2 separate regions of the Homo sapiens genome follow, and region 1 is linked to region 2. The links come from fine-mapping of genetic effects on gene expression. A gene starts in region 2. The other region holds a variant in brackets. All regions are shown on one strand. Distances are from middle to middle.

The links. PIP is the estimated chance that this variant, and not a neighbour inherited with it, causes the effect.
Region 1: its variant is fine-mapped to the expression of RAPGEF4-AS1 in prefrontal cortex (GTEx, PIP 0.98).

Annotation. Positions count from the first base shown.
Region 1 is chr2:172,576,062-172,587,051 of GRCh38, forward strand. PDK1 (pyruvate dehydrogenase kinase 1) reads left to right here. Exons shown (of 11, transcript NM_002610.5): 9 at 10,217-10,327. Among named protein-coding and RNA genes, the nearest start is that of PDK1-AS1, 25 kb to the left of the region's middle. The variant C/G (reference allele first, on the strand shown) is at 5,619.
Region 2 is chr2:172,729,981-172,740,970 of GRCh38, forward strand. It overlaps RAPGEF4-AS1 (RAPGEF4 antisense RNA 1), which reads right to left and starts at 6,226. Exons shown (of 4, transcript NR_026995.1): 1 at 6,146-6,226; 2 at 5,315-5,481; 3 at 4,325-4,453. RAPGEF4 (Rap guanine nucleotide exchange factor 4) reads left to right here and starts at 5,865. Exons shown (of 31, transcript NM_007023.4): 1 at 5,865-6,068. The coding sequence starts at 6,004.

The DNA.
Region 1 (10,990 bases), 150 kb before region 2:
GGACTGCAGGCACCCGCCACCATGCCTGGCTAATTTTTGTATTTTTAGTAGAGATGGGGTTTCACCGTGTTAGCCAGGATGGTTTCGATCTCCTGACCTCGTGATCCACCTGCCTCAGCCTCCCAAAGTTCTGGGATTACAGGCATGAGCCACCACGCCCAGCCTATAGTTTGTGTTTTTATAGGAATTTGTCCATTTCATTTAGGTTATCTAATTATTACACACAATTGTTCATAGTATTCCCTAATAATTCTTTTTATTTTTGTAAGATTGGTAGTGATGTCCCCACTTTCATTCCTGGTTTTATAAATTTGAGTCTTCTTTTTTTTTCTTGGTCAATATAGCTAAATACTTATCAATTTTGTTAATCTTTCTAAAGAACCAATTTTTTATTTCATTGATTTTCTCCATTTTTCTATTCTGTATTTCATTAATTACACTCTAGGCTTTATTATAATTTCCTTCCTTCTGCTTGCTGTGGTGTTATTTTGCTCCTGTTTTTCTAGTTTCTTAAGGTGGAAGTTTTGGTTATTCATTTGAGACATTTTACAACTATAATTTTACTTTAAGCACTGCTTTGTCTATCTTACAAGTTTTTAATGTTTTGTTTTCATTTTCATTCATCTCAAAGTATTTTCTAGTTTCCTTTTGGATTTTTCCCATTGGTTAATAGGATTGTGTTGTTTAATTGCCACATACTTGTGAATTTCCCATGTGTTCTCTTAATCATTTAAATTTCATTCTGTTGTGATTGGAAACATACTTTGTATGATTTCAAGTATACATCTATTGAGATTTGTTTTACAGCCTAACATAGGGTCTGTCTTGGAGAATGTTCCATGTGTACTTGAGAAAAGTGTGCATTCTGATGCTGTTGAATGTTCTACAGATAGCTATTAGGTTTAGTAGGTTTGCAGTGTTGTACAAGCTTGTCTTTCCTTGTTGATCTTGTAATTGTTATATCCATTGTTGAAAGTGGAGTATTGAAGTCATCTCCAATTATTGTTGAATTGTCTATTTCGCCCTTCAGTTCCATCAGTTTTGCTTCATGTATTTTGGAGCTCTGTTGAGTACATATATGTTTTTAATTATTATCTCTTTTTTGTGTATTAACCTTATATCATTAAAAAATGTACTATTTTGTCTCTTATAACAGTTTTTGTTTAAAAGTATATTTTGTTTGAAGTTAGTGTAACCATCCCAACTCTTTTTGTTTCTGTTTTCATAGTGTAACTTTCCAGACTTTTAGTTTAAACCTCTTTGTGCCTTTCAGTCTAAAATGTGTCTCTTTATAGCATACAGTTAGAATTTAAAACCATTCTGCCAATGTCCACCTTTTAATTGGAATGTTCAGATCAATTAAATTTAATATAATTACTATTAATGTAATTAACAGTAATTTTGGTTTATGTTTGCCGTTTTGTCTTCAATATATGTCATATCATTTTTTATTATTTCTCCATTATCACTGTCTTTTGTTAAAATATTTTGTATTATATCATTTTAATTTCGTTCTTGTTTTTGTTACTATATTTCTTTGAGTTTTTTAAGTAATTATCCTGGGGATTACAATTAACACCTTAATTTATAATCTAGTTCAGATTAATACCAATTTGCTTTCAATAGTATACACTGACTTTTCTCCTAAATAGGCCTTTTCCCCTCCCCACCCATCCTTTGTGCTGTTATTGTCATATAACATACATTTTTGTACATTGTGTGCCTGTCTACAGAGATTTATAATTATTGTTCTATTCAATTGTCTTTTAAATCAGATAGGACACAAAAAGAGTTACAAACAAAAAATATACTCATATTTTCCTTTAGATTTACTTTTGTAATAACTTTTACTGGCACTGTTTATTTCTAAACATGGATTCAATGTTTTGTCTAGTATCCTTTTGTTTCAGCCTGAAGGATTCCCTTTGGTATTTCTTGATAGCCCATGTCTGTCAGTGATCATCTCTCTCAGTTTTTGCTTATCTGGAAATGTCTTAATTTCTCCTTCATTTTTGAAGGATAGTTTTGCTGGTTATAGAATTCTTGTTGATAGTCTTTTTCTTTCAGCACTTTGGAATATGTTATCTCACTGCCTTCCAGCCTCCATGGTTTGGATGAGAAATCAGCTGTTACAATCTTATTGAATATTGCACATATGTGATGAGTCATTTCTCTGTTTCTCAGACTGGATAATTTCAATTGACCTGTCTTCACTCTCACTGATTCTTTTCTTTCACATGCTCAAATATGCTGTTGAACCCCTCTAGTGAAATTTTCATTTCGTTTATTTTTCATTTCATTTATTGTACTTCTCAATTCCAGAATTTCAACTTAGTTCTCTTATATAATATCTATCCTGTTTTTTTCACCTTTGCTAAATGTTGATGCATATCATTTTATTGCCCTATATTTTATTGTTGTATCGTTTAAAATTTTCTATTTTGAGACATCCTTATACTTTAGTTCTTTAGTGTTTGTTTACGGAGTGTGAGTTTACTGACTCAGGTATAGTTTATTGACTGATTTTTCCTTGCCTGTGTATGGGCAATACTTTTTTGTTTTTTTCATATCTTGTTATTTTTATAGAAAACTGGACATTTAAAATAATATATTTTGACAGCTCTGCAGATCAGATACTGCTGTCTCCCCAAGGCTGTCTTTGTTGTTGTTTTGTAATTTTTTTTTTTTTTGGAGTTAATTCTTTTAAGTTTGAATTCTTTGTTGTGTGTGGCTTCTGAAGTCTCTGCTCATTTAGCTTAGTGGTCAGCTAATGACTGGACTGAGATTTCCTCAAATACCTGGAATCAGTAAGTTTCCCAGTCTTTGCCAAGGGACTCTGTGTGTGTATAGAAGTGTTCAGGAGAATATCTTCAACACTCAGCCAGGCAGTTAACAACTGTGCCTTAACCTTTAGGTCCTGCTCGCATAGAGCAATTAGAGGTGAGAGCTTAGGGCCTTCTCAGTGTCTTTCCTGAGCATGACCCTGGGCATGAGTATGGCCTTCCAGATTCCCAGGAGATAGCTGAGGTTTTCAAAGCCCCTATGGCTATCTCATTCCCTAGACCTTCCTGTTAAGCTTTTTGGTTAGCCTTATTGTTTGCCCTAGCTGTTGTCCAGTTTCTTCTGCAGCCCTCAAATTAATCAGTTACTTCTAATTGTTTTTGACAGATGTTTCCAGGGATGGGGGTGGGGTGCAAGACTTTTGTACTGGGGAGCTCAGAGTCAGGTCAAATAAATACAGTCTTCCCAGCAGCTACCAGGCTGCTGGTTTCACTCTGATTGCATATTGATTGGAGGGAGGGGGAGCAGATGGGAGCAAGTTAAAATGCTTACTGTTCTTATACGGATTCAGTTGTTTTACTTGAATAAATGTTCCCCAGATTGCTGCATGCCTTTAGTTAATTTCCAGAATTCTGTCAAAGTAGATTCTAAATGATTTTTGCACCCCCCTCCCCCGCTCTTTCTTTTTTTTTTTTTTTTTGGTGCTTTGATAGAGGAGAGACTTTTGCAGGTTCTTTCTCTTCTATTTTTGCTGATGTCACTCCTGCTGTTCTTTTTGAGAAGACAACGTTTATTACAATTCCTCTTCCTTCTTATGTGACCAGTTTTAGGTGTCTACTTTTGTTTAACTAGAGTTTTTAACTTTTTTTTTTTTCTTTTTTTTAAGCTGTGCTCTGAAGTTTCAGTGATGTGACTTGGTGTGGGCCTTTTCTTACTTACTGGGCTGTGGTCTTTGAACTTCCCATTATTTTCTTGATATTTTCCTTTTCACTGTGTGTTTAGTCTCTTTCTGATAGTCATATTAAGAGGATGTTGGGCTTCATGACATCACTCCCTGTTTTTTATCGCTTCAACTTTTTATTCTATTCTGTGAGATTTCCTTGACTTCAGATTCCCAGCCCTTCTATTGAACTTTTATTTCCATTATCTTACAAATTTCCAAGAATCCTTATTTTTAAAATTAATCCCTTTTTAGAATTCTGCTCTAGTTTTATTTTATTGCTCTAAGGATATTATTTTTTTTTAATTAATTTGCCTCTGTACCCTGCATTGTCCGTTTCCTGAGTTTCCTTTTGTCCGTTTCTCTCTCGTTTGTTCATTTTAAAGAGATAGGCACAAAAAAGTCAATAAATGGCGATGCCATCTGTTTGCTGTAAAAACAATATGAATGTATCACTTTTTTTTTTTTTTTTTTAGCTCAGATGCTAATGTGTCTATTTTTTGGTTAGTTGTGTGTCAGCTACTTTCCCGTTAAGGTTTACAGTCAAGAAAAGACCCATTGGTCTTCTGGTTTGGGGCTTAAGTTGTGCTGCAGCATGTTCTTTCTTGTACCTTTTTCTGCTTCTATTAGAAGTGCTTTATTTAGCATTTTGGTCTGCAGCTGCTTTCTATTGCTATTATCCGTCATTGCATAGATCAAGGTTTACTGAGTTCTTAGACTCTCAGAAGAGATTACTTCTGTGCTGGTGGATGGGCTTAACCTCAGGAATCTGTCTTTATGATGTAAAGAAAAATTCATAATGACCCAGCAATCCTACTCCTATGTCTATACCTCAAAGGATTGAGAATATTTAGGCAAAACCTTACACACAAATACTCATAGTGGCACTATTCACAATAGTGTACAGGTAGAAACAACCCAAATATCTATCAGCTAATGAATGGATAAACAAAATGTGGTATGTCCATACAGTGGAATATTATTTGGCCACAAAAGGAATGAAATACTGATAAATGCTACAAACTGGTTGTTGTAACATTGAAGACATTATGCTAAGTGAAAGAAGCCAATCACAAAAGGCCACATATTATATGATATTATTTACATGAAATGTCCAGAATAGGCAAATATATAGGGACAGAAAGTAGATTAGTGGTTGCCTAGGGATATGACCACTAAAGGAGCTAGGGTTTCTTTTGGAGGTGATGAAAAATTCTAAAATTGACAGTGGTAATGGTTGCACATATCGATGAATATATTAAAAACCATTCAATTATATACTTTAAGTGCATTAATTATATGGTATATAAATTATTTTTATCTTTTTTGAGATGGAGTCTCCCTCTGTTGCCCAGGCTGGAGTGCGGTGGCATGATCTCAGCTTGCTGCAAGCTCCGCCTCCCAGGTTCAAGCGATTCTCCTGCCTCAGTCCCTAGTAGCTGGGACTACAGGCGCCTGCTACCACACCTGGCTAATTCTTGTATTTTTAGTAGAGATGGGGTTTCACCTTGTTGGCCAGGCTGGTCTCGAACTGCTGACCTCAAGTGATCCGTCTGCCTCCGCCTCCCAAAGTGCTGGGATTACAGGCATGAGCCACTGCGTCCAGCCTGCTATGTAAATTATATCTGAATAAAGCTGTTTAAAATAAAATAGGCTTGTAAAGGTCTCAAAAAAGAGTGTTCTAGAAGCCTGCTATGTTAATTATATTTGAATAAAGCTGTTTAAAATAAAATAGAAAGGCTTGTAAAGGTCTCAAAAAGACTGTTCTAGAAGTCCTGTCTGTATTAGGCTCTGCCTTCACCTGTTGTTTCTGCTCCTCACATCCAAGGTCACATGAAGGCATCTCCTCTTGCAGCCTCTCTTTACATGTTGAATTCTTGCTTTTTCTTCAGTCGAG[C/G]TTTGATCCCCATTACTTACCCTAGACTTTTAGAATCAAGGCTTGGTTTTGTTTCTTCCCCATTTTTTTTAGCTTGTTCAAATTATTGACATTTTTTACCTTTTATCCTCTTGCTAAAAATCCTATACAAAAGTTGTTGTTTCTGTCTTACAGCCCTAGCTGCTCTTTCAATTCTGTGTTTAGTATATAATCTATAAATAACCTATGTGTTATAGCCACATGTCTTTTTTTTGTGTGTGTGTGTTTTTTTATAGATGGAGTGTTATTCTGTTACCCAGGCTGGAATGCAGTGGCAGAATCTCAGCTCACCATGACCTCTCTTTCCCGGGTTCAAGCAATTCTCCTGTCTCAGCCTCCCGAGTAGTGGGGATTACAGGCACGCACCACCATACCTGACTAATTTTTGTATTTTTAGTAGAGACAGAGTTTCACCATGTTGGCCAGGCTGGTCTTGGAACTCCTGACCTCAAGTGATCTGACCACCTCAGACTCCCAAAGTGCTGGGATTACAGGTATGAGCCACAGCGCCTGGCCTACATGTCATTTAAATTAAAACTTAAATGTCTTGGTTCATTTACTGTTGATGATTTTACAGACTTAACAGTGAAAACGCTGTTGGCTAAGAAACTTTAGGAACTCTGGGTGAATACAGGGAATGTCCTGGCTTTAGAGCTGTCATCTAGTCAGTAGTGGTTCATTTCATCTGGGCCTAGAGTTCACATGAATTAACCTAGGGAGCCTAGTGTTACTGGGAATAGGAAGTTAGGGATGGCAGCTCTTGGTTAGATGACATTGACAAGTGGTGCTTTTGTGCACTGAAGAGAAAACTTTAAAAATAATTGGCAAACTTCTCTTCCTTGGCCTTCCTGTTGACATTACTTATCTCATTATCTTAATAAGGTTTCGTGTTAGTTTTCACATCTCTCTTTCAATACATTTGTCATCAAAGGTACCATTCTTCTTGCCTTGAATATATACAGACTAAATATCTGTCTCTCCATTATTCCCTCCCTCCCTTTTCCTGAAGAACTTGGATCCTCCAATAATCTATTACTGCTCTTTTGGAAACTCTTTTGCCTACTTTAAAATCCACTGGCTCCAGTTTATTGTATTGTTGGCTGCAAAGCAAAGTACTACTTTGACTGTAGTTTCTAACTCTATTCCTGTGGCTTAGTTTGCCCTTTACCTCTAGCAACATGATGCTTCTCACATCCTCTCTGTCCTGTCTGCTTATCCCCTCTTATTTTCCCATGCAGCCTGAGGCTGGAAATGACTTCTTATTTTGTACTTGCTAGGTTGTTGTTACAGTCTCCGTGGCCAAAAGGTTAAGGAAAACCAGGAAATATTTACTCAAGTCTACCTTTTTATCTTAGTATCTATTCTAATATGTTCTTTACTCCCTTCATGTATTTATAGAATACACATACTTCCTATTCATGTTAACTAGCAAATGTGCAGCAGAGCATTGAATTAAAGGATGAGTAATTAACAAATTGATGGATTTCTCAAAATACCCAGAGCTCTTTATTCATCTTACTAAAATAAATTACTTTACAGGGCCAAGAGCAATTTCAAGCATAATGCTGCATAAAAGTTTTCTGGTTTTTTTTTTTTTTTTTTTTTTTTTTTTTTTACTGAGCAGAGTCTCGCTCTGTCACCCAGGCTAGAGTGCAGTGGTACAACCTTGGCTCACTGCAACCTCCTCCTGGATTCAAGAGATTCTTGTGCCTCAGCCTCCCGAGTAGCTGAGATTACAGGCGTGCACCATGACGCCTGACTAATTTTTGTATTTTTAGTAGAGACAGGGTTTTGCCATGTTGGCCAGGCTGGTCTCGAACTGCTGACCTCAAGTGATTCGCCGGCCTTGCCTCCCAAAGTGCTGGGTTTATAGGTGTAAGCCACCACACCCAGCCACAAGTTCCTAATAAAGTCCTTGTATACTTTATTATTGATAGTGTAATTACTTAATTTTAGATGTATTCGAGGCACATCTTTCAATGGTATTTCAAGGCAGATTTTTTTAGTTATAAAAATCAAAATATCTACATAATTACCATTATAAAGGTAATATATATATACTGTAACAATTTTTAAATATATAAAAACTCAACTATAAGCCATTCAGCCTATTGACTTTTAATACATATTATTCAGTACTATTTTAATCTATATATACATAAATTAAAAGCAGATTTGTTTGTGTATGACAACTATATTGTTATAGGCAGTAAAATCAATTCAGATTCTGTGACAAAGGAAAATGGCTGTAGTAGATTAGAATATAAGCTGGATAGTAGCTAGGAAAATAAGTCCATGTTAACTTTGAAGGAAAAGAAAAATTGTATGTAAATAAATTACTAAATTTGATTTGCCATACTGTTTGAGTTGAAAAATGATATGAAAATGTAAAGACCTACATGCCTTACGAACATATCAGAAAGTTTTCTGGGGTTCTAGGCTGTAAAATTGCTGGTAGATGGAAATACAAAGTAGTGGTTCTGTCTTTTTCTCCCTGAAAATGAAAATTATACTGTTTTTTTCCTGTTAAAGTAATTGTGAAGAAAATTCAGAAACTGAAAACCCCAAACAAGAAGAGAAAATTACTCATTCTACAGACAATAAAATTAGATATCATTTCAGACCTTTTTATAATAGAATTTTTGCAGAGTATTATAAATGCTTCTTTGTAACTGTTTTTTTTTTGTTTGTTGGTTGGTTTTTTTTGCTGCTTAACTATCTCTTATGCCAGTATATGGAGTTCTATATAATATCTAATTAATGGTTAACAATATTCTATTTTAGAATGTACTTTCTTTTACTTAACTAATCCCCTATTTAGGTTGTTTACTTTTAGGTATTCTGCATAGAGCTGTGATGGATGTTCTCATATATACTTTGCATGCTTTTCTGCTTATTTTCTCAGGATAAATTTCTGGAAGTGACATTGTTGTGTGAAAGGTACATGCTTTTTTTTTTTTTTTTTTTTTTAAATAGAGGCAGGGTTTTATTCTGTCACCCAGGTTGGAGTACAGTGGTGAGATCATAGCTCACTACAGCCTCGAACTCCTGGGCTGAAGTGATCCTCCTGCCTCAGCCTCCCAAGTAGTTGGGGATTACAGGCATGCACTACCACATCTGGGTAATTTTAAAGTTTTTTTTTTTTTTTTTTTTGTACAAACGGAGTCTCACTATACTGCCCAGGCTGGTCTGGAACTGCTGGGCCCAAGTGATCCCCCTGTTATGGCCTCCCAAAGTGTTGGGATTATATGTGTGAGCCACCAGACCCACCCAATATATGCTTTTCTTTTTTTGTTTGTTTTTGTTTTCTTAATTTAGAGACAGTGGCTCCCTCTGTCACTCAGGCTGGAGTACAGTGGTGCCATCATACCTCACTATAGCCTCCACCTCCTGGGCTCAAGTGATACTCCTTCCTCAGCCTCCCAAGTAGCTGGGATCACAGTTGTATGCCACCATGCCCAGCTAATTTTAGAAAATTTTTTGTAGCGATGGGGTCTTACTCTGTTGTGCAGGCTGATCTCAAACTCCTGGCTTCAAGTGATTCTCTTGTCTCAGTCACCCAAAGTGTTGAGATCACAAGCGTGAATCACCATGCCCAGCCTAGTACATGCATTTTTAATTTTTTTTTTTTTTTTTTTTTTTTTTTGAGAAGGAGTCTTGCTCTGTCACCCACGCTGGAGTGCAGTGGTACGATCTTGGCTCACTGTGACCTCCATCTCCTGGGTTCAAGCAATTGTTCTGCCTCAGCCTCCCAAGTAGCTGGGACTACAGGCATGTGCCACCACACCTGGCTAATTGTTATATTTTTAGTAGAGATGGGGTTTCGCTGTGTGGGCCAAACTGGTCTTGAACTCCTGACCTCAAGTGATTCACCCATCTCTGCCTTCCAAAGTGCTGGGATTACAGGTGTGCATGTTTAATTTGCTTCTAGTCACCATGCTGCCCACCAGAAAGGAGTAACAGATTTATAGTTACATACAAGATAGGGTTAACTTGTGCCCAGTTCTGTGCTATAATGCACTGTTAATGAGACTCCCGGAAATATACAAAGCCACAGCAGTATTATGATGGAGTTTATGTATTAGAGTTTCACATATTAGAGGAGTTGGGTTGGGTTCAACAGCGAGGGAAATGCTTATATTGGCAACTTGGATTGTGTTGTATTCATTTTCAAAAGCAGCACTCAGGCTGGGTGCGGTGGCTCATGCCTATAATCCCAGCACTTTGGGAGGCCAAGACAGGCAGATCATGAGGTCAGGAGAACGAGACCATTCTGGCTAACATGGTGAAACCCTGCCTCTACTAAAAAAAATTAGCCGGGCATGGTGGCAGGCGCCTGTAGTCCCAGTTACTCGGGAGGCTGAGGCAGGAGAATGGCATGAACCCGGGAAGCAGAGGTTGCAGTGAGCTGAGGTCGCACCACTGCACTCCAGCCTGGGCGACAAAGCGAGACTCTGTCTCAAAAAAAAAAAAAAAAAGCGCTCTCCCACCAGCAGTTAAACTGTGATGCTATGAGTATGTGTTGATATTTTGCTGTTTTGAGGATTTGGGCATAGAGCACGATCCTTTTCTTACCTTAGATGAGTGACCGAGGAGGTGGCGTTCCTTTGAGGAAAATTGACAGACTTTTCAACTACATGTATTCAACTGCACCAAGACCTCGTGTTGAGACCTCCCGCGCAGTGCCTCTGGTATGTTATCAAGAAATAATGAAGTGTGTTTCTGTGAATTGCCTTCCACATGCTGTAGCTGCCAAATAAGTAAGTTAAGCCGTCATGTAGGGTACTCCACAAGGAAGAAAGAAGCTCTTAGAAATGCACACTTTCCCCTAAATTTAAACAGCCTTCAGAATACTTTTTTTTTTTTCCAACTGAAATGGGCACGAGACAGAGATTTGGAGTTCTTGTTACAAAGTTTGATCGTGATATAGCAGTAGTTTTCCTGTGTAAAACCACATTTTGAAATATGGTTAACCACATTATTTCTAATGTGGGGAATAAATTACTGGTTTTAGTAGTGTTTGGTCAACACTGAATTACTTTTTAGTGTTGACTTTTTTCTCAAGTACTTGTCATTAGAATGATCTCATATCCTAGACTGAAAAATAAGACTAAAATTCTAATCTGTTCAATCACCAACCTGAAGGCTTAAATTATAATTGCTTTGATGGTGTTTTGTTAATCTTAGTTCCACCTATTTTCAGGTTTAATAGGATCAACTTTTGAATTGACTCCATCCTTATCTTTATGTTCTAACTCCCCCACAAAAAGTATGTTGCCAAAATTTTGTCTGTAATTCTAGAAGAACTCTATTCTTCTAGGCTTGGAAACTTCTCTGACATTTCCAGTAGAGTT
Region 2 (10,990 bases):
CGAATCACTTTGCGTAGAAAAGGCAATTGTCTTGGTTGAGTAGGAATTAATGTTGAAGGTGTGGAAGGAAGTTGACTTGATTCAGTTTTCACTAGCCCAAGTCACAGATGTTAAATTGCAAGTTTCACGTCAGGCACCAAAATAGAATAGCTATGAAATTCCAAAGTGAGATGCCAAGATGCAAACTTTCAATCAAAATACTAAAGACCAGTTTCATGGGTCTAAAACTTCTCACCTGAAGGGGGAAATAGTGCCTACGAAGGAGAAATTAAAGGAAGATTTTGTGAGGAGTTGTAATGGTTAATTTTATGTGTCACCTTGAGTGGACCAACGGGTCCCCAGATTAAACACTGTTTCTTTGTGTGTTTGTGAGGGTTTTTCTGGATGTGATCAGCATTTCAATCAGTGGACTCAGTAGATTGCCCTCCTCAAGGAGGCAGCATCCCATTAGTTGGGGGGCCTGAACAGAACAAAAAGAGAAATTTGCCCCTTTTTTCCTGCCTTACTGCTAGCATGGGGACATCTCGTCTTCTGCTCTTGGATTGGGATTTTTAGCAGCTTCCTTAGTTTTCAGGCTTTTGGATTCAGACTGAATTACACCGCTTTCTTGGGTTTCCATCTTGCAGATGGCATATGGTAGGACTTCTCAGCTTCCATAATTGTGGGAGCCAATTCCTCATAATAAGTCTCCTTTTATAGATACAGATATAGACATAGTTACAGATATATAATCCATTGGTTCTATTTCTCTGGAGAACCATGACTAAAACAGGAGTATTTTCTTGTTTTAGTCATGGAAAGTCTTGAAAAGTAATATTTCTCATACTATTTTTTCCTCTCCATGTGGGCCACTCAGAGAACCTGTAAGTTGGGAGCATAGGGGATTGTTGTCTGACTCCAGCCCTGGAAACCTACAGATCAGGAGAGAGGGATTGGTGAGCCTCTTTGGCGAGTGAAGAGGCTGCACGGTTGGTAGGATTGGTCTGCACTCTGAGTTTATTAGAGCAAAATAGGTGTTGAGTGTCCCTATGGACCAAATGTGGGACACACAGAAGAGAACGATCCTGGAGCCCCTTTAAATCCTGCTCAAGAAGACAGCTGGGGTGTGGGTGGAAGATAAATTGGGAGTCCTACGGAGGGAGGAAATTTGGAGGGGGACTCAGGAAATCCAGTGACACTTGCTTATGTGGGGGGCCCAGCAGCAGGGGCACCTAAGAAAAAATGAAGGCACCCACAAGATAAAGAGCAGGTTTGACATTAGCCAGGTTTGGAAAAGACAATGCCATCTTACAACTGTCCCAGTAAAGTAAGAACTTTCTTGCCCCTTCTTTTCTCTCTTCCCTTCCCTACTCTGATTCTGGAAGGGTCAAAACCAGCAGCTTTCATGGTGGTCTGGGATGAGGAAGGAAAGGAGAAGCTGACCACGTCTTCTCTCCTAAAGGCTGAGACCTGCCTGTGACCAGCTGTAGGTTGGGGAGGAGGGCAGAGTTCTTTTCTTTGAAATGAAGATTGAAATATGTAGTGATATATTGGTTTGGGCATTCTAATAGAAAGAATCTGGTACTTTCTATTACCTATAAGTGACCAAACAAGCTATATCCAGTGGCAGGGGTAGAATTGCCTTCACTGAGCAAGTTTAAAAGGACAGTGAGATAAAACATTAAAATTGCTTTTATGATTTCACCGAAGGAATACTGCGTCTTCATTGAATTGGTTATATCACCAGCAGGAGTGATAGATGTGTTTTTATAACCTACCTTCCAATGAGGTACCTAAAACATGGTGAATCAGATTTTTCCCCATATACGGATATGAGTGAATGCCCAATCTATGATAGAATTTCCTGGAGAATTTCTATGGGTTTCTCAGGAGACCCATCCCTCATATCCTTTATAGCCAAAACTTGCAATTTATAGATGTCGAAGCCCTTTAGCATAAGTGATCTCGACAGCTTATCACCACCAGGTCCCTGTGAAATGCAGAGAGCACCTAGTATTATTTGCACTATATGGAGAATAATAGCTAAGAGTTATTGAACACTCACTATGTGCTTGGCACTTATGCTAAATATCTTACAAATACCAAATTCATGTATAATACTATTAATTTCTCCACTCTACAGATGATGAAACGGAGTCTTAGGCTAAGTAGTTAATTTAAGGCCAAACATTTAGTAGAAGATATGGCTGCAATTTGAACTTGGCTGCCTGCCTTCAAATTCCTAACTTTGAACCTCTGCTCAGATGAACAAAATGGAAATCAGACATTTTAGCAACTCATTCGAGGATCTACATAGCATTAACAGATATTGGTCTTGTCTCATCCTTGTCTCATGGAGATCTTCAGTAGAGATCTTAGTTCTCTAGTAGAGAAAGAATTCACTAAACTATAGGAAGGAGATTAAACAGATAATACCTTTTCCAAGTGAAAAAACAAGTCTCAAAAGATAGTGTAAGTAAATTATAACTGTACACTAGAATATTTGGTGGCCAGGAAAAAATGTTTAAGGATTTTTTAAGGAAAGTAAAGCATTTTTCCATTCCAATAGAAAAAGTAGCCTATAAACTATTAATGCTTTCAAGTCTGTTTGAATACATGTATCTATACACATACATATATGCACACATATACATACACATAGCTAGTTATATGTATGTGTTTGTGGGTACATGTATGATCATATCACTTCTAATTTTTAATTTTTTTTTAATTTTTGTAGAGATGGGGGGGGTCTCACTATGTTGCCCTGGCTGGTCTTGAACTCCTGGCCTCAAGCAATCCTCCTGCCTTGTCCTCCGAAATTGTTGGGACTACAGATGTGAGCCACTGTGCTTGGCCTTGATTGTATCTTTTCATAATAGAAAAGTTTAGAATTAAATGCACTAAAATATTAACAGTATTACCTCTATGTTATGGAATTATGGGTAATTTTTACTTTTTCTCCTATATTTTTCTCTGTTTCCCCCCAAAAGATCAATCATATTATTTTTCCTCTCCATATAGGTTTATTAATATTTTATTTACTTAACATTTTTATTGAGATAATTTGCATACTGTAAAATTCACTCATTTTAACTATACCATTTGATGATTGTTATTAAATTTATAGAGTTGTGTATCCATCACCACAGTTCAATTTTAGATCATTTCTAGAAGATTTCTCAGGCCCATCTGCAGTCATCCCTTATTCCCACCTCCCAGCCTTAGGCAATCCCTAATCTATTTTCCATCTCTATAGATTCGCTTTTTCTGGAAGTTTCACATAAATAGGATCATACAACATATGCTCTTTTGGGACTGACATATATTGTGTTCTTTTAAAGAGAGGGAAATGAATAAATATTCTTTGGTTCTTTGCCTTTCCCATCCAATCCAAGCAAAAGCCTGTTTTCTTCCTCTTAATACTATAATAACTAATTATCAACAGAGTTTCCTTTACTCCTGTAGTTCTTGACCAGCAATCAAATCCCTTTCAGATCACAAGATAATCTATAGGACAGTAAAGCTATTCCTGATGTTTTAAGGATCTCTGTTTTTTAATTCCTCACACATTTCTCTATTTTTACATTAAAAAACTGATTTATAACTATTTTGTTCTTACCCTCTGGACAGTCATTGTAGACATGCCCTATACTCCCATTCTATTGGCAGAAACAGGGACACCATCACTGATGTGGAAGGGTTTGGAATCAGACAGACCCAAATTCCACTCCGGGGCCCCATCTCCTGTAGCTGGGTTATGGACCCTTCCTGAGTTCAGTGTCTTAGTGAGTATCTTGGAGTTACTTGTACCTACCTCCAGGGCTGGATGAAGACATGAGCATGCTCTGGACAAGCTAGTGATTGTTGGTTCTCCTTCGAAAGGATGTTCTTTAAATAAGTCTTCAACTTCTCTTTAGAGAAGAGGCAGGGCCCCCACACAGCAAAACAAAGGCCTTGCAGTTCATCAGAGCTACACTCCTTAAAATGCACTGTGGACTCCTCGAGGGTCTCACTCTCACTCCCAGCAGCTCATCAGTGTCTTCCTTCCAATCCAATTAACACTCTCCCTGAAAGTACTGATACATATCATTTTCAATATTTCACTACATTTTCAAGGATATTTATTGCTGTTTGTGGAGTAGTGTCTTTCTGGCTCTGCCTCATAGAGTGTTCTGAAGATTAAATGGGATCACACATGTAAGGAGTACTGCACAGGGTCTAACACTCAGTGGATGTTCAATAAATGGCGACTATTATTAGTATCATAACCAAAGCTATGGCAACTCTGAGCCTCTGTGTGATGACAGGTGATGTGCAGCTCCTTTCTCCTCTAGCTCCTTACCTGGAAACCTTCTTTGCAGAAAGGCATTTTCAGAAAGCTTTTGGTGACCTTGAAACATTCTCAGGTGCTCTCTGATGTCTTTATAAATGAAACTTAATATATATAGGAGATACAGTTCCTCCTTCATACCTGTATAGTAAAAAAGCCACAACATAAATACCTTTGGTTAATCTTTCTATAGTATATTATTTTAAATATTAGCATAAACATGATAGAAATTAACAGAATGAAGGTTAACTGGGGGAAAAGCCCTGAGCAGGGAGGGAGGAGTTGCTGTGGGAACACTGTGGCAGGTCTGAAACTAGATCCTGGCTATCCAGCAGAGGGAAATGGCACATATTTGGAGGCTTTTATATCATGGTAATAATTGTTTTATTAGGATCAAAGCATCCCAGAAAGCACTTGCTCTTTCCTTCTCTCCAGTCCCCCTGACTCTCCCCTGAGCAGGGTTGGATAGGAGGTTTGGTGGGGGGAGGAGGCAGGGAACAGTAGAAGAAAGCAATGCTATGTCCCTTTCCCCCATTGTCTGGCCCCAAATGTAGTGCCATAAATATCAAAACAGTGCTTGGTAATAGTCCAAAACATTTAACTTGTCCGCAAATTCCTAAACAACCATTGGCGTGTAATTTGGTTCTTGGCAGAGTGTAACTGAATAACTTGTAGACATGACATTTGTGTGAACATCTACAAGAGACAGGCCGTTATCACCACCCATTCAACACTCCAGCCAGAGGAAGAACAGCAAGGGGGCCAGCCATACAAGTTCACCTGCGCGTCCGGGGTCTCGGTTCTGCTGTGGCCCGGCTACTCCCCATTCTCAACTGTGTTTTCTTCACCATGCAGGTGATGGAAGCCCAGGCAGGCCCAGGGTTCAAGGCCAGTGACTTCAGCCTGTCACCCCCTCAGACCACATCGGGCCCACCGGCCTCCTCCCTCCCTGCCCCTCAGCCCTGCCCGCACTGCCCCCCATTGCGCCCAGCCCTTCCTCACCCCGCAGGAGAAGCTGGCCTCTCATTCCTCACTGAGAGACTCGACGGGCGTCCCCACGCCAAGCCTTCCTCGCCCTCCCCTCCAGCCTTTTCTGAAGGGGAGACAGCAAAGGTGAGCAAGCAACCGCCGGCAAGTTTCGACAGCTGCTGAGGAAGACTCATGGGTTTCTAAGGAAACAGAGAGGCAGCAGCCATTTTAGTAGCATTTGCTGTATGAAAAATATATAGACACTGGCAGCCCTCTCCCCACTCTGCCTTGGCGCCTGCCCTCCCGCCCCGCCTCAGAGGCCCCGGGGTGAGGGTGGGGCCCCAGTCTCCGAGGGACGCAGCGGACACCTGTCGCAGGTGGCCGGCCACCGGGGTCGCCACCCCCAGTGTCCCCCAGCAGCGGGACCGCGGGGTCCCCACCCCGGGGCGGAATCCCCACCCACGGGCGCCGCAGTGCAGCGGCGGGCGGGCGGGCGACTCGGCCCTCCCCGCACCCGCGTCCCGCCCCCCGGGTCCCCTCCCTCTCCCCACCGCCCCAGGCCGCGGGAGCCCGCGGGGAGGGCGGGCCTGTCGCAGCCGCGCTGGTCGCCAGGCGTCCGGGAGGAGCGGGGTCCGCGCGGCGGACGAGGCGGGGGCGGAGGCGCAGGCAGAGCGAGCGCGGGAGGTCGCCGCAGCCAGGGACACCGCGCGCCGCCGCTCAACATGGTCGCTGCGCACGCTGCCCATTCTTCCTCCTCTGCCGAGTGGATCGCCTGCCTGGATAAAAGGTAGCTCGCCGGGGGCCGCAGCCGGGGGCCGAGCTCTGCGGTGCTGCCCGGGCCCTGAGACCGCCGCAGCTCCGCACCTGGGCGCAGCGCGGCCGGGCTGCGGGTGGCCGGGGTCCCCGAGCGGGGGAAGGGGTTGAGGTCCTCGTCCGGGAGACAGGAGGACAAGGATCCCCGCCTCTCGTGGGGTGCCAGCGGCATGAGATTATTACACGTGGTGGAGAAAATGCAGCGCAGTAAGGGGAGAGAGCACCCACCTCTCCAACCCCCTGCCCTGCCGCGACTCCAGGCTCCGCTCCTGGGTGGGGGTTTATTTTCTCTTGGCATCACGGGACAGAAGAATCGATGCATACCCTTTCCGGCTATTCAGACCTTGCGGGGTATGAAGTTTTAAAGAGGGGTGGGGGCACCGGCAGGTGCAGAGTAACATTCTTTTTTTGTTCTTGAAAGCAAAGTGTGAGGGACCCGGTGGAGCTGTCGAATCCCTTGCTGAAATTCACAGCTCTCTGCCCCCGCAGTCGCTCGCTCAAGGTCTGTGTTAGAGAAGGTCATTTGGGAGGCTGCTTTCGTCTTAATACCTGCTTCTCGGGAAAAGATCTTTACGCTAAAAATAATTAAAACCATAAAGCATGTAACTCCCGACGACAGCTCTCTCTAAGGAGGATGTGTGTGTTAACAGTGGATTGCAGTTGTTTCCAGGCTGTGACAGCATAATTTTCTGTTTGTCCAGATTGCAGGTTTAAACGTTACACAGTATGTTAGCAATTATAGCTTATTACCCTGATTAAAAGGTGATGCATCTGAACTTTTAAGAACTGAGCAAGAAATCTTGCAGAGTGAACTGCCTCTGAATTTCGGAGTTTGATGCAGAAGGGCAATGATGCACGTCTTGCAGCTATCTGCATGACATCTCTATTTGCATTTGTGTGAAATATTTTGTGCTCTGCCATATTGAAAAATTTTCAATTAACAGATTCGTAACCAGATCAAACTTGAAAATCTTAAGTGTGACGTGCTTTGCATACTCTATTATAGGCCTTTGTTGAAAAATATTAAGTAATTTGAGAAAAGCTAAATGTAGCTCATTTGAAAAGCTTAATATATCTGAGAAATAATCTTGACTTTCAATTACCACTCAGTAGCAAGATTTTTTGGCAGGTAGTGCCCTATTTATGTCTAAAATGATATGTACTAATATTAAAAGAGTTGCATGCAATAAATAGTAAGAGAATTAAAGTAATAGTTAAATCACACAGGATTATGTAGAAGAACTAAGAGTATTTAAAGTATAGAGGTTGTTAATGTGATAAGTATCTACATTTAATAGTTCAGGAAAAAGGAATTATATGGGATTCAGGATCTTGCACTTAACCTATAAATAGTAGTGCTTCCTTATGAGCAAAATTTTTAGATAATAACATATTTCTATGTGTAGAAATGCATGGCATGGCATTTTTTGAACAGTCGGTAATTCACTGGAAACCCGTTAGTCAATAAGAAGTACTTATGGCAAAATCATAGAGCAATACTAACACAAGTGGGACATATTCGACTCTCTCTTTTCATAATGTGTATCTGCCTAAATGATTTTGCTTGAAATGGATTTTTTAGAGCATGGTGCCCCCATTTAATGCCACCATTCATAATGGGAAAAAAATCTAGGAAAAAAAAAAAAACCCTTCACAGATACTGAGCCTAGCATCAGAAGAGTCAGATGAGTGGATAGATCAATAAGTTAAGGGTTTTAGGCACAGAGCTGTTACCAGTTCTGATATTGGACATGTCACTTTTACTTCCTTGAGTGTCTGAAAAATGAGGATAGGACTATCAGGGATAAGTGGACAAATGGAAGGAGAAAAAAAAGGTGAAATAGTTTGAAAACTGTGAGTGCCATGTAGGCTTTTTGTTTTGTGGTATTAAAAGAACTTTGCATGTTCTGCAGTGTTCATGCCAGAATTAATTCCAATGAGGAACAGTTTAGGGCAGCAATCTCATTGTATGAAGGCCATGGGGGGACTTGTTTTGAAGTTGTGTTTTTACTTAGATTGTTTATTTATTTATTTTTTTTAGGAAAGGAGAAAGGTTGAGAGTGTTTATGGAAGTTGGCTAGGGAAGCCCCCTGAAACACCTGTTTAGTGGAGACACTGCCCTCAATGTTTCTGAGAAATGCTGTCTTGATCCTCTTTTCCAGGCACTGTGAAATGCTATCTTGATCCTCTTTTAAATGCTATCTTGATCTTCTTTTCCAGGCACTGTGCTGGGCACTGGGGATGCAACAAAATATGAGAGTTGCTTGTAGGCTTAGAGGGTAGGGGAGATTGGTGGTGGGACGGCTCTATAAACAGCTAACCACAATGCAATAGTAAGTGCTTTAATGGAGATGTATAAAGTGCTTTGGGAATGCAGATGAGAGAGTTATCGAGATACTTCCATAGGTGTCCTGCCTAGAACTCAGAGGCTGAGAACAATTTTACCAGGCACAGAATAGGGAGGGCATGCCAGGGAGTGGTGTGGCATATGAATATGCTAATTTCTTCCCAACCACAAATTCCTCTTGTGACCAAATCTAGAGTATAGGAATGTATGCTCTATTTTTATAAAATCTTTTTTATTATGGACATTTTCAACCCTGCACAAAAGAGAAAGTACAATGAACCCATGTGGGTTCACTTGGGAATATGATGCTGGGACCTTTCAACTGGGAAAAGGACGTAACTGGGAAACACAGTTCAAATATATGCCTCATTCAAGTGACAACTGTTGTGGATGGTGAAAAAAAGAGAAACCCTGGGACTGGAAATAAAAAGAGAGTTAAAAGAGAAAGTCTGCAGTAGTAAAGAAGTATACAATGAAATTTGAAGTGAAACAAAACACAAGGAAAATAGAGCCTTAAAGTGTTTGTTAGGAATGCCTAGAAAGCTATCATAGACAGGACAATATTTGCAAGTGGGGAAGGGTGTTGCAAGTGTTGTAGATATGTAGATTAGATTAAAGAAACAAAATCTATAGCTTTTTATGTATCAATCATCCACCATCTTGGACTATGGTGGGACTGAGGAGATGAGGGTCTACAAATACTAATCTTAAAACCAGAAAGACAGGACATTGAACATTTGGATGGATAAACCAACATTGAAAAAAGTCTCAGCAGATGTATTGTTAGAGTAAAACAAGCTCACCACTATCTCAGGGATCTTACCATTTTTTTCTGAGGGGATGGCAACTAGGAACAAATTACATAGTTCCCACTATTTGGGACTTAAGATAGGTAAAATGTCCTTTCTTTTTTTTTTTTAAGTGTGCTGACCATTGTTTAAGTTTTTTTGTTTTTGTTTTTGTTTTTTGAGATGGAGTCTCACTCTGTCACCCAGGCTGGAGTGCAACGGTGTGATCTTGACTCACTGCAACCTCCCCCTCCTGGTTTCAAGTAATTCTCGTGTCTCAGCCTCCCGAGTAGCTGGGATTACAGGCACACACCACCATGCCTGCCTAATTTTTGTATTTTTATAGAGACAGGGTTTCACCATGTTGGCCAGGCTGGTCTTGGACTCCTGACCTCAGCTGATCCGCTCGCCTTGGCCTCCCAAAGTGCTGGGAATACAGGTGTGAGCCACCACACCCGGCCCATTGTTTAATTTTAATGAAAATATTTTTCCCGTAAGATTTTAAATTTGCCAACTGTGAACTTCAGATCCACTTATAAGTCCTAGTTCTCAGGGTTGGTAAAGGAGTATTATGAAGGGACAGGGACCATACACATTCATGTAGTATAGCGACTCATTGCTGGCATTCATCATGATGGGACAGGCATTGACAAGCTATGGCCTGTGGGCCAGATCTGACAGCTTGCCCGTATGTCTCGTGGGCTAAGAATGGTTTTCACATTCCTGAATGGTTGGAAATAAATCAAAAGAAGATCAGTATTTTGTGACCCATGAAATTTAGATGAAATTCAAATTTCAGTGTCTATAAACAAAGTTTTATTGGAACATAGCCATGCTCATTTGGTTACATATTGTCTACAGCTGCTTTCCCGCTGCAGTGGCAGAGTTGAGTAGCTGCAATGGAGACTGTGGGCCCACAGAGCCTGAAATATTTACTATGTGGACCTTTACAGAAAAAGTTTGCCATCTTTTGTTATAGATGAAAGAACCTATCTAAGTGATTGACAGTGAAACCACTGGAGATGAAAGAAATCGTTTTCATTTGGAAAGGAGTTCACAGTGTTTGGTTTCTTGTTCTTTAATTAGAAGTATAGGTTGGAGAAAGGTTCTCAGTTGATTGGCTTATTTGAGGAACACTGGCCGTCACAGCCAAAGCAGATGATGAAGTTAACATGGTTATTCAAAAGGTTGTGATCTTTCAAAGGCAGCAGATGAATTTTTTTTAAGTATTCGTGTTTCAGTTTAAAAATACTCCATGGACAGTTTCCATCTGACTTGCCCCCAAATAGATGTTATTTTAGCTATTTTGATTAGGTTGAATTCGAGTGAAAGAAATCAAGAAACAAATTTGTTAAGAACCAAAATGCTTTGTAGCACACATGGTGAGAGAAGATAACTCAGATATCAAAGAAGCATCAGACATGGGTCCACCCTTGAGAAATGCAGAGGATCAAAGAAGCACACAGAGCAGAAAGGGGTCCCTGGAGGAGGCTAGTATCTACTAGCCATGTCCCAAGGGATGACATTACCCCGGTACATCCTCCAGGGCTCAGGCTGGTCTTGCAATCTCAGAATACTGACTTGTTAGCACATCAAAAATTAATGTATCTTTCAGCAACAGATACACAGGTACCAGACTCTCAGAGACTCTAAAAGCCAGAAAGACAGTTTATTAATTTGACAATAAGATCTGTCACATCAGAGAAGTGGACACTCACGTCCTTTGGCTAATGTATTCTTCCTCTAAGTAAGCCATATGGG